2 separate regions of the Homo sapiens genome follow, and region 1 is linked to region 2. Evidence: fine-mapped expression QTL. A gene starts in region 2. The other region holds a variant in brackets. All regions are shown on one strand. Distances are between the middles of the regions.

Region 1 (3,029 bases), 110 kb before region 2:
ACATTAATGTAGAAGAGAACAAAATGGAAATATTTTAAGATCTGTATGGTAAGAATCATACTGCAAGGACATTAGGCACCTGCCCTTCATTGTAAAATGATTAAAATATCCAATGTAAATTAGTACTGTGGCAATTATTTCCTAGAAAACTGAAGTACTATCAATACTGGGTATATGCATTTCCAGAACCACTTTGTTTAAAAAGAAATCCATGTAAAGAAATAATGATAATTTGAAAAAAGTGTTTCAACAATAACAACTGTGATCCTACACTGTGGTATCTTACTGCAAGAGATAGGAGAAAGTTCTAGTACTGAAATAATTTATTCCTAAAAGGTGAAAAATATTATGATCCAGTATCGCATAAGCGTATAGGTACATTTACTTAATAAATAGGTTAATTTTATAGGAATATATAGTTGGTGTATTTCTATGTATTTTTGTATTGGCGATCCACTGTAGCAAACTTCCTCAGGGAAAAGAAAGTCTAAGATAGAAGTAGTAAAACAGAGTCTTAAAGACAGAGCTTCACACTGTAACACTATTTCTCCTGTATACAGTGGAAGTAATGTGAAAGGCTATTCTTTAGAAATCCAAACTTCTGTAGCATGGGACTCCAAATAAAGATCATGAGATAATCTAATCACCTCACGTTTACTTCATAGAATTGTGTGTATGCCTAATAAAAGTGTGTTAGAAATGACTTAGACCAAAGGAGTAATTTGATTGGTTAATGAAGAATGGTAATTGAATTTGATGGAATTCATTAGTTAAGACAAACAGATACTTTACAACCCAAATTATGTACTCTAACATATGTAATAGTCACAGTGTGATATATGTACTTCACTGTTGAATTAGCCATATATGAAAGAATGAGACACAGCATGGTACAAGGAAACATCAGTCTGAGACAAATTCTGCTCTCCCCTCTAACCCCTCACCCAATACTCGTGCTAAAATATCATCTGTGCAGCAGGCCACAAAAGCACAGAGGCAGATGCCATGGCATATTCTTTTAGAATGCAAGACTGCTCAAGATCATCTACAGATAATGAACCATGACAACTTTGGATTTGATAGAGTACAAAATGACAGTGGGAGAAAGCAAACATGTTATACAAGGAGCCAGTGCCCCACCAACGAAAACAGCATTTCAAAAACATTAATAATAGTAATAATTTCAGAATATGTGACAAACACTAATTTCCCCTTAATATCACAAGAATTTTTAAAGAGATACAGTTCTTCAATCTTCAGCACAAATACTACCCTTCCCTCCGCCGGCCCCGCCGCCACATATAAAAAGATATGGATGGATAAAGGAGGTTGATCATCAACAAAATGTGTCAAAAATTTGTTTTTTCCAAATACCTTAATCAGACAGTTCCAGTGCAATTTCCAGGAATGAGGCAGTAGACAAATGAGCAGTCTTCCAATCTGAGTCCAGGCGTTTGTTCAAGCTCTTGCTAGTTCTTGCTAGCTCTTGCTAGTTTTCCCGTTTTCCCTTGAGAGAGAGAGAATAATAGAATCTGTGAAAATGCTAGCCTGCAACTCTGCACACTGACTGGGTATAGACTTCTGCTTATTGACTGGGTATAGACTTCTGCTTATGCAGCCCATTC[G/A]TTATTCACATCCTGCTCTAGCTTCCTCAATTCCTGGTTGTGCTGGGTGCTCCAGGCTAAGAACCAATAGGTATGAATCATGCTGACATTTTAAAAAAATCTAGAAGAACAAACATTTCAAAAGAGCAACTTTTTCATATCATTCTGACATCTTCTGTTCAATGGCATTGGTCTATAGAGGAGAAGTAGCCTGTGCTGCCACAGAAGACACCCAGTGGAATTACCAACAGCAGGGAATTATCTAAGCAATTCACACTTTGTTTTGCTAACAAGACTCTATGTTAGGATACTGGAGTGCTATCCTTTTCTGGCAATGTTCTCCTACCTTTTCAGAATTATTGAAAAGCTAACTGAGTCTATTTTGATTTGTGAATCTCTTTGTGAGCAACAGCAGCTGCAGCAGTGCTAATAAAAAGGAAAGACATTGCTATTTACCTAGGAAGAACTTTGAAATACTGCACATACTAAAGCATCTGGGTGGTAGGGAAGCTCTATCAAATACTTCAATATTCCCTTCCTTCCTCACTTTCTTTGCCCTTTCGGGTTCCCTTCCTTCGCCTTTCTTTTACATTTTTTTCTCTTCTTTTTTCCCCATTCTTTCTTTTAAAATTTTTTTCTGTTCTCTTTAATGCACTCCCTATTGCATTCATCTACTTTTTTGATATAAAACTGCAAAAAATTTTGCCCCATATTTCTACTATCTTATATTTGATGGTTGAAAGTAATAATTTTAGAATATAGAAACTCTAAAAAACTGAGTTATAAAGTAGCATAATTCTTTCACAAATATAAAAACGCAGGTAGACAGAATTCACGTTATCAGCTGAATCCTGTAGACCAATTAAGAATTGAGGCTTTGCATAGTAGAGCATACATTAAAATCATATTGTATACCACTAGTTTATAAAATTTGTCATTTGTTAATTGAAATAAATAAATTATAAAAAAAATTTAGGTTTTGTCGATTCCAGTGACTCCAATACAAATCACATCGTTCTACTGTCTTTACAGTTTAGTTTTCAACTCTCCAGAGGAAGCTGACATGGCAACACTCTGTTATTTGAAGATTTGAGTTTTCCTACTACAAGGTAAATGAATACATAATACCATACAGCTTTCATTATATTCTGAATAGAATTTTACATTTCCCCTGCAGTTATTAAACCATTCTCTTCGCCAACCAGTGGATTGGAATGATTCTGGCATAAATCCATATAGAAAAACATGGGAATTTACAGGGTTTGGGAAAACGTAAGTCCTTAGTTTAAAGGAACAGATTCTTCACAAGAGAGTTTTATTCCCTGAATGGCTTCTGAGCAACATTTTGCCTGGCTGATACAGACAAGAAATAGTTGACTCCAGCTCAGGCTGCTTTTAATACTTCTTTACTATCTGTGATTTATT
Region 2 (2,746 bases):
TGGAATTAGAGACTGCTGAAGCTGCTGTAAAGGCTCTGTCCAACAAGTACCATTTACTTGACCTATTATGCAGGCAGCCAGGGGCATGTTGGTGTTTTGATATATTTTTCTTTCTTTTAACAAGACGTTACAAAAATGTTTTCCCCTTCAGGATTTTTAAAATTTAGGGTATCTTTCTAGCATTACTTTCTAAACTTAGTTCCAGTACAGGAGGATTCTTGTCCAACTGAGCCTCCATGTGCCTTCTAAAGGGAGTGCTGAAATTGTATAAACATCATGTTTACATCCATTAAATATTGTCCTATTAAAAGAAAATAAAGCCAGGCATAAGTTTGGTATCCAGACAATAAAATGCAAATAGTACAAAGGTAGAATAAAGTGAAAATTCTACACAAATGTAGCTTCCATACAAAAGTTAAACAGTTGCTTTATTTCACGAAAGGGTTAATACTGGAGAAAGTGAATATCAACATGTACACAAAGCTAACTAGAAGATTAGCTTTCTCAAAGTAGAAATCCAAGCCTCCCTATAAAATTGTTGTCCCTTGCAAATGTTTTGAAACTTTACATTTTTTGATCCCCCAACAACAGGCCATACCAAGAAACCTCAGGAAAGTAATAATCTATTTTAATTGTTTTTTTTTTTTTGTTACTCAAGAAAGCTTTCAAAGTTCAGATATTAACACTGATGTGCAATACCAAATTGTTAGCCCCACAGGACAGATGGAAACAGGAAAAGTCAGATGGTTGGCACTCAAAAGCAAAAGCAATTAAGCAGTTGAAAGTGGGTTGGATTGTCGGTTTATTTTTGTTCCATTTGAACGAATCAAGTGAGAGACATAGACTCTTGCAAGGAGGAAATCAAGTCAAACTTGACGCTTCCTCTCTCTGACAGCCCAAGCTGGACTGGTTGTCTACTCCCCTTATTCAGTTTAATTGCTTTATGTGCTCTGATTTTCGCAGAGCTTGTATTCTATCTTGTTTACGTTCCCCCCCCCCCCCATATCCCTCTCCCCAACAGAAAGAAATCTTTCTCCTTTCTTCACTCCCCCTCTTTCCTCTAAGAAAGGCAATCCTCTCCAGGAGGAGAAAGAAACGCTGTGCGTGCTTAGGGTGGGAGGAGGGCGAGAGGGGAGGTGTGGGAGAGAAAGAGAGAAAAGATTGAGATTGGGGGTGGGGGACGGAGGAGAGAGAACAAGAGAAGGAAAGAGGAAGCAAGAAGATGGGGGATGCCCAACATCAACTCCAGGCTCTAAATCACGGGCGCTGTGCAAAGTGCTTTTCCAGGAGATGCACATGTAGTCTCATATTTCTCACAATAGGCCACCCGGGGATCCCTCCCTAGGTCTCAGACTCCCACCACTAAAACCCAAGTGTATCGAGAAGAAAATCTTTGGGATGGATTCGAGCAGATAGGCACCGCCGAGGTGGCCGCGCCGCCAGTCCCGCTTCCTTACCTGGAGGGCGGACCGGGAGGTGGTGCCGGGTCTCGGTCCCCAGTGCTCTCCCCGCGTGGACCGGCGCGAGGCACACGCGTACTCTCGCTGCCTCCGCTCTTGGAGGGGCAGCCTGCAACACAAAAGGGGTGTGTGGGTGTGGGTGTGTGGGAGGTTTTCCAGGGCCACCAGCTGGTCCCACGTGGTCGCCCCCACCCTACACACACCCCTTCGGGGCGCCAAGCCCCCCTCTCGGCTGAGCACCACCCTGGGGACTTGCCCGGGGTGCAGCCTCAAGTTGCCGCTGCTAACTGCTGCTGCCGCTGCCGCTGCTGCAGGAGGAGGTGGAAAGACACTGGGGGCAGTACTCGGTCTAGAGCATCCCCACACTGCAGCTTCTCCAGGAATCCCTCCAGTGAGGAGGCGGCCGCCCATCATCTCCGAGCCCCAGCATCCTGATTGGCTCCACCTCGGGTACGCTGCGCCAAGGAGCCAATCCCCGCGCACTAATAATAGGTGGATCCGTTCAGCCAACATCGCCCATCCCAGTTCTGTTAGTGTCTCTCCATCCCCACAGCGGACAGGGACCTGGGAAGCGGGGTGGAGGCGGGTTGGGGGAGGGGGTGAAGTAAGAGGGGAACAGATCCCAAGGAGACACAATCAAGGGCGTCTGATAAAACCTCTAGGTAGACTCAGGAATGCCCCACAAGCTGTTCAGCAAGCAGTATGCACAGGAGAAAGAGAGCATAATACAAAGCTTTTTTTTTTTTTTTTTTACTCTCAATCAAAACCTACCCTGATACTGAGCATGCCCAGACTGCAACAGCGACCTAGGAGTTTCGATGTGTGTGGGTTCGCCAGCTGTGGGTTTTTGAAAAGCTGGGACCGGGGACAGGAGAGGTAGAAGTTTGTCTTTGGCCATTTAACCCGGCGGAGTTGTGAAAGCTGGGTAGGGTGGGGATGTGAAAGGGTTCCGCACAAGTGTCCTCAAACTGAGCCGCGGGGAGGTGGCCCACCTGGCTGCCGGAGGCTCATCATGCTGTTCTTCTGGGGTTCCGGGTTGGAAGCGGGGGCGGGATAAGCTGAGCTTTGCTGGAAGCCTGGGGACTTCCCGCGAAGGGTGCGGTGGAGCCGAGATGCGGGAGAAGCAGCTCCGTCCCATAGGTGGGGCCGGGAGCGCGACTCCACCCATCAGCGGCGGCTGCCAGGCCGTGGAGAGTGCACTGGGAGTTTCCATTGCAGCGACCAATAAGTTTGTACACTTGGGTCAAGTGCAACATTGTTGGAGATGCTTTTTTATTTTTTCATTT

The links. PIP is the estimated chance that this variant, and not a neighbour inherited with it, causes the effect.
Region 1: its variant is fine-mapped to the expression of SYT1 in monocytes after Pam3CSK4 (Quach 2016, PIP 0.95). The same link has a PIP of 0.9 or more in monocytes and monocytes after R848.

What each region holds. Positions count from the first base shown.
Region 1 is chr12:78,976,277-78,979,305 of GRCh38, reverse strand. SYT1 (synaptotagmin 1) reads right to left here. Exons shown (of 11, transcript NM_005639.3): 2 at 1,375-1,507. It overlaps LOC105369863 (a long non-coding RNA gene), which reads left to right. Exons shown (of 7, transcript XR_007063385.1): 5 at 2,637-2,713. Among named protein-coding and RNA genes, the nearest start is that of SYT1, 110 kb to the right of the region's middle. The variant G/A (reference allele first, on the strand shown) is at 1,626.
Region 2 is chr12:78,863,821-78,866,566 of GRCh38, reverse strand. It overlaps SYT1 (synaptotagmin 1), which reads right to left and starts at 1,793. Exons shown (of 11, transcript NM_005639.3): 1 at 1,458-1,793.